2 separate regions of the Homo sapiens genome follow, and region 2 is linked to region 1. A link means that fine-mapping ties the variant in region 1 to the expression of a gene that starts in the linked region. Tissue or cell type: whole blood. Region 1 holds a variant in brackets; the other region holds the start of a gene. All regions are shown on one strand. Distances are between the middles of the regions.

Region 1 (5,380 bases):
TATGGCTTTTCAGATGTGGCTTCTACACAGCTTAAACTCAAAGATCTGCCTCCCCATTGCCCTTTTCTCACTCAGATAGGGACGCTGAGGTCCAGAGGAAAGGTCGCCTGTGCAAGTCACAGATCTGGGAGGGGACCCTGGACCTATCATGCTACCAGGACACCTGTCTACTCAGGTTTTTCAAATTTTTTTTGGAGATAGGATCTCACTCTGTCGCTAGGCTGGAGTATAGAGGGCGAGATCACCGCTCACTGCATCCTCAACCTCTTGGGCTCAAAGTGATCCTCTAATGTCAGCCTGTCGAGTAGCTAGGACTATAGGCACGTGCCACCACCAAGCCCAGCTATTTTTAAAATTTTTGTGTAGAGGCCAGGTCTCACTATGTTGCCCAGGCTGGTCTCGAACTCCTGGGCTCAAGCTATCCTCCCGCCTTGGCCTCCCAAAGTGCTGGGATTACAGGCATGGACCACTGTCCTCAGTCCCATGTTATATTTCTATGAGACAGCTCTGGTCTGGACCATGCCTCCCTCCCTGGACCTGGTCCCATAGGGCTGGTCAGCATCTCCCCCAGGCCAACATGGCCACCTGCATCCCCAGTGCCACAGGAGCCGCCTACCCCCATGAGGCGGTGCATGCACATTGTAGATCATGATGTGCATGATGGTCTTGGGCTTCGCACCAACCATGAGGTTCCACACGGTCTTGTTGACAATGGCCATGTAGGAGTCCACCAGGTTCTGGGTGGTTTCCATTTGCCGCTCCAGCTGTGGGTCCATGGAGTGCATGAAGCTGTGGGAGCCATTCTCCTCAGCCTTGCTGTCCTGTCACGGAGAATGCAAGCGCATCAGGGTGGCCAGGCCATGCAGCCAGGCTCCAGCAATCCCTAGGATCTCAGTCCCTCCAAGGGTACCTGGAACATTGAAGCACAGAGAAAGGCAACTGGCCTGAACACACACCCAGGTCCCCACATGCTCTAGATGGTTTCAGGCCTCTGCCTCTCAGGACCCCAGACTCCCCTGATTCAAGTCTCATCTTAGTCCTGACTCTAGTGCCCAGAATTTGCCTCAAGTTACCAATCCAGAAATTGGAAAAGAACATCTCCAGGTACCTTGCTTGAAGACCTGGCCAGAGCTTGCGCCAGGCTGCAGATGCCTGGCAGGAAGCAAGAAAAGGGCATACTCACTTTCCCCTTGTCCTAGGAGGCCCATGCACCAACATTGCCACCGCCGCTGCCACCAGGGAACAGAGCAAAGTAGACACACACAGACAAGAAAACGGGAAGGGTTGAGTGAACCTGGGACACTGCACCCCAACTTTAATGTGTTGTTGAATTCAATTAGCTAATATTTTGTTGAGGATTTTTGCATCAATATTCATCAGTGATCCTGGCCTGTAGTTTTCTTTTTTGGATGTATCTTTAGTTTTGGTATCAGGGTAATACTAGCCTTGTAGAATGAGTTTGGAAGTATTCCCTCCTTCTCTATTTTTGGAATCGTTTGGGTAAGGTTGGTATTAGTTCTTCTTTAAATGTTTGCTAGAATTCAGCAGTGAATCATCAGGTCCCAGGCTTTTCTTTGCTGGGAGACTTTTCATTACTGCTTCGATCCCATTATTTGTTGTTGGTCTGTTCTGGCTTTGGATTTCATCCCGGTTCAGTCTTGGTAGTCTGGATGTGTCTGGAAATTTATCCATTTTTAGTAGGTTTTCCCATTTGTTTGCATATAGTTGCTGATAATAGCCACTAGTGATCCTTTGAGTTTTTGTGGTATCAGTTGTCATGTTTCCTTTTGTTTGTCAATGTTATCTTTTTAAAAAAATAATTTTTTTTTTTGAGATGGAATCTTGCTTTGTCACCCAGGCTGGAGTGCAATGGCACAATCCTGGCTCACTGCAACCTCTGCCTCCCAGGTTCAAGTGATTCTCCTGCCTCAGCCTCCTGAGTAGCTGGGATTACAGGCGCGTACCACCACCCTGGGTAATTTTTCTATTTTTAGTAGAGACATGGTTTCACCATGTTGATCAGGCTGGTATTGAACTCCTGACCTCATAAGGTACCCACTTCGGCCCCGCAAAGTGCTGGGGTTACAGGCATGAGAATCCGTGCCCAGCCCACATTTTGTTTTTAAATTTTACTTATTTACTTGTTTTTCTCTTTTGCAAACAGGGTCTCATTCTGTTGCCCAGGCTGGAGTGCAGTGGTGCAATCATGGGCTCACTGTAACCTTGAACACCTAAACTCAAGAGATCCTCCCGTCTCAGCCTCATGAGTAGCTAGGACTACATGCCTGCACCACCACACCTGGCTAATTTTTCTAGTTTTTGTAGAGAAAGGGTTTTGCTATGTTGCCCAGGCTGGTCTTGAACTCCTGGCCTCAAGCAATCCTCCTGCCTTGGCCTCCCAAAGTGCCAGGATTACAGGCATGAGCCACCATGCTGGGTCTATACATTTTCTTTTCCATGTTATATAAAGTATTCTGTATGCATCCTTCTGGAATTTGTTTTTCTCACAATATTATATTGCTAAAGTTCTTATTGTTGTTTATTGCTGGCGTTCATTCTTTTTGACTGCTTGTGAAATCACCAGAAGATAGACATCCTGAGATCTCTTAAGAACTGCTGCTGGGAGTATACACTGGTATGACCACTTTGGAAAACAGTTTGGCTCCATCTCATAAGGTTCAATATTCACACTCCTCCTAGCCCAGTAATTCTACTCTACGTGGAAGAGAAATTCTTGCCTATATAAAACAGGGGATGTGGACAAGGAATGTTCCTAACAGCTCTGTTCAAAATAGCAAAAACCTATTGCCCATCAACTGGAGAGTAGGTGACTAAATTGTGCTTTTTATTCCCTTTGATTTCCTGTAGTCTTACAATGCGAGTGGCTTTCCCATGGCTAGCTTGGGGAGGGGGATACTCTTGGCAACTGAGTCTGTGGTGGCAGCCCTGCTTAGCCCTAGGGCAATCGGTGCTGACCAAAACAAGAGTAAACAGAACAAGGTGCCCCA[C/T]TGAGCCAATGCCTTGAGTCCCTGGAGGTACAGTCTTGTATCTGTAGGAAATAGCCATCATACAAATCAGTCTTTTCAAATGCTCTGTCATTTGAAAGGCTGAGTCCAAAGGACATTCTCCTTTAAAACATTATAAAGTTTACTGAGGCTACCATTTATCGAGCAGTTATCATGTGCCTGATCATGTACTAGTGTACTAATTGCATGCATTATTTTATTATTTTATTTATTTACTTATTCATTTATTTGAGATAGGGTCTCTCTCTGTTTCCTGGGCGGGAGTGCAGTGGTGCAATCACAGCTCACTGCAGCCTCAAGCTCCTGGGCTCAAGTGGTCTCACCTCAGCCTCTCGAGTAGCTGGACTGTAGGCCCAAGCCACCAAGTCCAGCTAATTTTTTAAAAAAACATTTTCATAGAAATGTGGTCTGGCTTTGTTGCCCAGGCTAGTCTCAAACTCCTGGCTTCAAGCGATCCTCCTCCTTCAGCCTTATTATTGCATTTAATCGTCACCATCACCCTGTAAGAGTGGCTGGGGGTAGGTGCTCCACACAGTAGCAATGTAGCAACCTCCACTCATAGGTGACAATGAGACTCAGTGTAGTCAAGCAACTTCTCAAAGGTCACACAGCTGGAGGGTGGCTGAGCCAGGATGAAGACCTAGGACTCGAAAGCTGGTGCACCAGTAAATGAGAAAATCTCTGGGGGTTCAGGATCGCTTCCTCCCAACAAATCTTTCTCCAAAGGTTCTAAAAACAATAACAGATCCATCTTTCATAAAGCAAACAAAACTAGCAGCCCCTTCATTTTAGAGGGGGGAGGGGGGATAAAGGTTAGCTAAGCTCCAGGGCATCCCATTTTAATCCTACACATTTATCAGGCAACTGCCAGCACAGCACCCCAAACCTAAAGAACCATGCACAGCTGTCTCTGTGGGGCATGGCGTGTCCACGGACGTAAAGATTGTCCAATGTGTGTTTACAGGCCAGTGGCATCACCCTCAGTCACAGCTTAAACGGCAGCTAGGCCTGGCCTGCTAGGCACCACCGTGAGAATCTGCTGAGTTTTCCAACTAGTTTATCTACTGTTTGCAATGAAAGACGCCCTGAAAAGAAGGGGTGTGGGTGGGAAGAGTTCTGATTTGAGGTGCCCTGATCCAGCACGATCTCCTTCCCCAGTCACAGGAATCAGAGGACTCCATCTGTAAACACAGCCTCAAGCTCTGTCCCCCAACCCCCTCTTTCAACCAGGTGCCACCCTCTGCTTCTCTTCCATAGACAGCCTAGGCTGCCAGCATTCCCTTAGGATCTGTGCCCTCGGGCCTAGCTTAATTTTTTCCTCTCCAAAGAGTCATCTGTAGGGCCAGAAGCCAGCAAAGCCTAACTCATTACTGGACGGCAGTTCCTCTGCCTTTCACTGATTCCTACCTTACCCTGGGGTTTTACGTTTCTTGTCTCAACACTAACATTTCTCACTCCTCCACAAGTTGAATTGCTCACTCCAGCCAACTGAAGCATGCTCTTCTTGACACAGTTAGCTCTCGGCACATGGTCGGTGCTAAAAAAAAAATGAGCATTATGTCAATTTCATTGATCAACAAAAGTGATGCCTCCACTGCAAAGTCAAGTTGATAGTGCCTGGGCCTCTGAGTTCAAGAGCCTTCTAGACAAAGCGCTCTGAGCTGAAACATGAGCATGCACACATATGCATCTCTCTCGGTCTCATGAGATAATCTGGATACTTGGTTGTTATCCTTGAGCATTTTCCTACCTCATTAATGCACGTGTAGCCAACACAATAATTATCATAGCTAATAACGGCTAAAGCTGAGGACTTTCCTGAGCCAGGCAGTGGCTTTAAAAACTTTAATGTTTTCACAGACTCTCATTGAATAATTTCTGTTTTTCAGATCAAGAAACTGAGACTTACTATCACATTTGGGATTAAGTTTAAAAAAAAGAAAGAAACTGAGGCTTAAAGTTGTCTAGTATTTCACAGTCAGCAAATGGCAAAGTTGGAAATTGAACCAGGCAGTAGAGCCCCAGGATCCTGTGCCTTTACCCATTACCTAGTGTTGGCTACACAAAACTAGTGTGTACACAACTTCAACTATAGTTTAAGCTATAGTTTAAGTGGGTGACATATTTTTCACTACACTTTATGTAGGTGACTTTCAGTTTGGGGGTATTCTACTTATGCAATCTATTGAGGTGGATATTAACTGAGAACAAATAGAAACTAATGAACTCTGAAAAACATAAAACATGAGCAACATGATGTCACCGCAAAACACAAAACAGCCCACAGCCTTCTTGTGACTGCATTTTGCTGACAGTCCACGACCTAATAATCAACCTGAACTCAGCAGTGCTCT
Region 2 (5,380 bases), 26 kb after region 1:
AACTAATAGATATAAAGAAAGAAGTATTAGCCAGCTCAATAGGTGCATATCAGGTGCTAGGGGTTATGCTGATTTACTCCAACAATGAAATCATATCTGGAAGAGCAGCTGCAACTGGAATCACCATCTAATTAAATTTATATTAATCTACTATAATTCTCTAACATCCATTTGTCTTCTACATAGGCTAAATGTAAATGGGATGGTAAGGTAAGGTAAATGGGGTGTGATGAGAATCTCCACCCCTGCATCTTTCAAGTTCTTGAAGGCAACAGTAATCTGTGCAATTCCTTCAGGAATGCAGTATTACTTTTGATTTATTATTTTTGTATGTTGATAAAGTTCTAGTGGTTTCTGCTTGGCCTTTCCTACCAGAATAATAGCCTTATGTCCGAGGGTCAGGGAAACACTGTAGGGATTCTGCCAGTTTGGAGTATATCTATTCAAACTCTGCATTCTGGAACTGACGAAATAACTACAGTGTGAGTTTGGAAACCCAATGGGCTCACTGGGTATTGTGTGATCCTAGCTAAAACCTGGAAATAACCCAAATTTTCCATCAACAAATGAATAAACAAATTATGGTATATCCATACAATGGAATACTACTCAGAAAAAAAGAACAATAGATACACACAAACATAGGTAAATATCAAAATTATTGTGCCGACTGAAAGTAGCTAAACAAAAGGAGGACATACGGTGTGGTTCCATGTGTAGAAAAATCAAGAAAATGCAAACTAACCTATAGTGACAGGAAGCAGACTGGTGGTTGCCTAGGTATTGGGAATGGAGACCCAAGAGAGACAAATTCCAGAGGGTCCCGAGGAAATTCTGGGGTGGCTTAAGTGGGTCCATGACATTCAGTGATGTGTTGGTCATGACAGAATGGCAGAAGCAGAAACTCCATGGCAGTGGATTGAGAAATGATGAATAATGAGGAGTCAGTGGGTCCTATGTAACTGTATCCAGAGGCTTCCTGAGGAAGGACTAAAAAAGATACAGTGATATTGGTTAGCAACATACTTCATGGAATCTCCTCCTGGGTGCTGTTTGGGATTCCACTTAGCTTAATCCAATGAGCTTGTCCCCCTCCGCTCCTTCTCCTGCACTGATTCTGCTCCTGGAGTGGAATTTACCTGCTTTTCCTCCTTGCTAACATCTCCCAACCTTTATTTTCCAGAGCAAAATAAACCTTTTCCCCTTTCTCAAAATTTTCTCCCTTTCTCAAACCACACCAGTCCAAGCTAAGCTCTTCCACTTCAGGACTCTTATAAGGGCATTATTACCTGTATCACATTATATGACATGCTCAATTAAATTCTGCCAAAGTTGAAAAGTACTAGTGTTAAGTGTGTAGAAACTGGCATCAGACTATCTGAGTTTGATTCCCCCTTTGTCATGTAGTGGCTGTGTGACCTTAGTCAAGTAACACAGTCTCACTGTGCTTCAATTTCTCCAGCTATAAGCGGATATAACAGTATCTCCTGTTATGAAGATTAAAGGAGTTACTACTGTTACAGAGTTTAGAACAGTGTTTGTCACATCCTAAGCCCTAAGAATAGTGATAAAAATCAATTTCTGTTCCTGCTCCAGGAAGTTTCACGCTCATGGTTAAGAGGGATACAAAGATATATGTGGCATTTGCCCTAGACTCAAGGAGCCAGTAATTTCGTGCTGGTCGGATTTAGATTTCACAGCGATTTTCTATATGCCCTGGCCCAGAGGCCTCAGTACTTGGGCAAGTTTGGCACGAAAGGCCAGAAAGTCCATTTATAATGAATGGCCACTTTTTAGAACCTGTTTGCAAGGCAAAAGAATGGTGACTGCCAGAATTCAAGAGGAAGAAAGGGTGAAGCCTTTTTGGAGAACGCAGACGATGGCCTTTTTGCAAGGTTTTGGAAGATTTTCGTTTCAACGGACTAAAAACTACTGCCAATAGCCTCTAGACAGGCCTCGAAAGGCAGGGGAGGCCCTTCAGACCCCATTTCCCCACTGCCCGTGACCCTAAGGTGGGCCTGGCCTCAGGCCCCGCCCCGCCCCGCCCCTGCAGGGTATCTGGCCTCAGGCCCCGCCCCGCCCCGCCCCGCCCCTGCAGGGTATCTGGCCTAGGCCCCGCCCCTCCCCGCCCAGCGCCCCGCCCCTGCAACGTGTAGGCCTCGGCTCCAACGAGGCCCCATGGCTCCGTCCCCGCCCCATCGCCCCGCCCCTCCCGGGAGCCCTGTCTTCTGCCGTGCGCTGAGTGTCCGCGTCGCCCTCGCCGCAGTCGCGGGCACCCCGCTCGGCGTCGGTGCCTGAGGGAGGCCGCGATGGCGGCCGAGGCCCTGGCGGCGGAGGCCGTGGCGTCGCGCCTGGAGCGGCAGGAGGAGGACATCCGCTGGCTGTGGTCGGAGGTCGAGCGCCTGAGGGACGAGCAGCTGAACGCGCCCTACAGCTGCCAGGCGGAGGGGCCGTGCCTCACGCGGGAGGTGGCGCAGCTCCGGGCCGAGAACTGCGACCTGCGCCACCGCCTGTGCAGCCTGCGGCTGTGCCTCGCCGAGGAGCGGAGCCGCCAGGCCACGCTGGAGAGCGCGGAGCTAGAGGCGGCGCAGGAGGCCGGCGCACAGGTAACCGGGCGGTGGGGACACTGGAGAGGACGCGGGCGGGGCGGGCCGAGACGGTGCGCACCGAAAGGTTTTCAACTGCGGGGGCAGGTGCGGGGGCGCCCCGGGGGAGTGCCCTCCCAGTGCCCTGCGGCTGGCCCGCCCTGCCCTGCTCGGTGGTCCCGTGTGGCCTGGGGAGCCGCCGGATTTCCAGCAGTCGCCAGACTTAACCAAATGCTGTTGATTTCTCAATTCGTCCATTAAAGAGCCTGCCACGCATCTTTTTCAGTAGCAGAAATAGTGTTTTCATTTGTTTGAAAAAATGCTGGAGTGTTTAAAACTCATTCTTTCCTTGGTCAGAAAGACTAACAGCTGCGTATGTAAACTCTCATTCCCTCTGGTTCTTTTTTGTTGTTGGGTTTTTTTTGGACGAGAAGTTTTCGCTTTTTGTGCTCTTGTTTTGGTGGTTCATCTTGAGAGGATAGCTGTATATTTAACATTTTTATTTAATACAGTATTTTATGATTTGTAGAAAGGATAAATTATCTTCTTTTAACATCATACTTTCTGAGTCCTGAAGCTTCTCAGGCTGAGATGTTCTGCAGTCCTTTAGGAAGGACAGCTGCGGTGAACTAGCAACATCTTCAGGAAATAGTGCATTTGATGTGGCGGGCAGCAACCACACATTTTCCAGCCACATTATTTGTTTAAAGTTCAGGACAAAAGGTTTTCAAGAGCACAATATATTAAATGTGCTTAGCAACAGTGTGACAGGAAGGACTGAACCCTGGAGAATGACTTGCCCACTGAGAGCTGTAGCTGGTGGTCAGGAGAGCCCAGCTATGAGCCTCTAAACACGGGGCACTTGCAGCCTGCTGGCATGACTCTCTTCTTAAAATGTGTTGCTTTTTCTTGCCATTGATGTGAGTCATTTATAATTTATCTTTCAGCCTCCTCCTAGTCAAAGCCAAGACAAGGACATGAAAAAGAAGAAAATGAAGGAAAGCGAGGCTGACAGCGAGGTAAGTTGTTGCTGTGGAAACAATATAAAATACTACCTGTAATTTTAAATATGTGTATATAGTTAATTACCTAGGATTTCCAATAAAAATTACTGATTAAATTATTATTTGGGTCACATTAGTGTATTTAAAACTTTTCAAGCCTTAAATATGAGATGTCTTGAGAAATGAGCTGCCCATGTTTAATAAACACGTGTATTTAATCTATTTAAGTTGTGCTACTAGAGTACTAGAGTTGGTTTTTTTTGTTTGGTTGGTTTTTTTTTGTTTTTTGAAGGCGGAGGTTTGCTCTTGTTGCCCAGGCTAGAGTGCAATGGCATGATCTCGGTTACTGCAGCCTCCACCTCCCAGGTTCAAGCGATTCTCCTGCCTCAGCCTCCTGAGTAGCTGGGACTACAGGTGCATGCCACCAAGCCCGGCTAATTTTTTTTTTTTTTTTTTTTTTTTTTTAGTAGAGATGGGGTTTCACCGTGTTAGCCAGGAGGATCTCGATCTCCTGACCTCATGATCCGCCCACCTTGGCTTCCCAAAGTGCTGGGATTACAGGCGTGAGCCACCGCCCCCGGTCTTTTTTTTTTTTTTGTATTCGAGAAACTAGCTACTTTGCTTTTGTATATAAAGCATTAAAACAATCAGTAAGTATTTATCTAGCATCAACATTTGGTAGGAGTGAAGAAGGAATACCTAGGCCCAAAGAAGTTAGTCTGGTTGAGGAATTCAGGCAGACTCAGGACAAACAACTAGAGAACAGAGTACGATGGTATACAAGTAAGTGCTGTAATGTGTGACTCTGTACACGTTCTGTAAACAGTAGAAAAGGGAGGTGTCATGGGGGCTGGGCGTGGGGCTGTCTCAAAGGAAAAAAAAAAAAAAAAGGGAGATGCCAGCGGGTAAAATAGGTAGAGGAGGCAGGCTTTGAGGTGGACCTTTAGAGCTAAGGAGAAGTTAGATAGGCAGAGAGGAGCCTTTTGGAGGTGGGAAGTACACATGCTCTTAGTCTTACAGTTGGGTTATGTCCCAATAAAACCAATGTGAGTTAAAAATGTATTTAATACACGTAAGCTAGTGATCATCGTAGTTTAGCCTAGCCTACATTAAAAGTGCTCAGAACACTTAGATTAGCTTACAGTTGGGCAAAATCCTCTAACATAAAGCCTATTTTATTATGAAGTGTTGAATATCTCATGTAATTTATTGAATACTGTACTGAGTGAAAAACACAATGGTTGTATGGATACTCAAAGTACAGTTTCTACTGAATGCATATGACTTTCACATCACTAAAGTTGAAAAATTGCGGCTGGATACGGTGACTCACGCCTGTAATCCCAGCATTTTGGGAGGCCAAGGCAGGTAAATCATTTGAGGTCAGGAGTTCGAGACCAGCCTGGCCAACATGGCGAAACCCCATCTCTACTACAAATACAAAAATTAGTCTGGCAGGGTGGTGCGTGCCTGTAATCCCAGCTACTCGGGTGGCCGAGGCAGGAAAATCGCTTGAACCTAGGAGACAGAGGCTGCAGTGAGCTGATTTCGTGCCCCTGCACTCCAGCCTGGGCGACAAAGCAAGACTCCATCTCAAAACAACAGCAACAACAACAACAAACCAAAAAACAACAACAACAACAAAATCGTAATTCAAACCATGGTAAGCTTGGGACCATCTGTAGAACTGAGAAGGCAGTAAGGGGGTGAGCCTGATTCAGAGCTGAGCAGCTGGAAAACAGTAGGCTGTATATATTAATCTCATTATGTTCTAATAATTTCCAGGTGAAG

What was found.
Region 2: it holds the start of TARS3, and the variant in region 1 is fine-mapped to the expression of TARS3 in whole blood (TOPMed, PIP above 0.99).

The regions. Positions count from the first base shown.
Region 1 is chr15:101,746,982-101,752,361 of GRCh38, reverse strand. No RefSeq gene overlaps it. Among named protein-coding and RNA genes, the nearest start is that of TARS3, 25 kb to the right of the region's middle. The variant C/T (reference allele first, on the strand shown) is at 3,009.
Region 2 is chr15:101,721,317-101,726,696 of GRCh38, reverse strand. It overlaps TARS3 (threonyl-tRNA synthetase 3), which reads left to right and starts at 2,224. Exons shown (of 19, transcript NM_152334.3): 1 at 2,224-2,606; 2 at 3,533-3,604; 3 at 5,375-5,380. The coding sequence starts at 2,310. RefSeq lists a silencer at 1,939-2,828.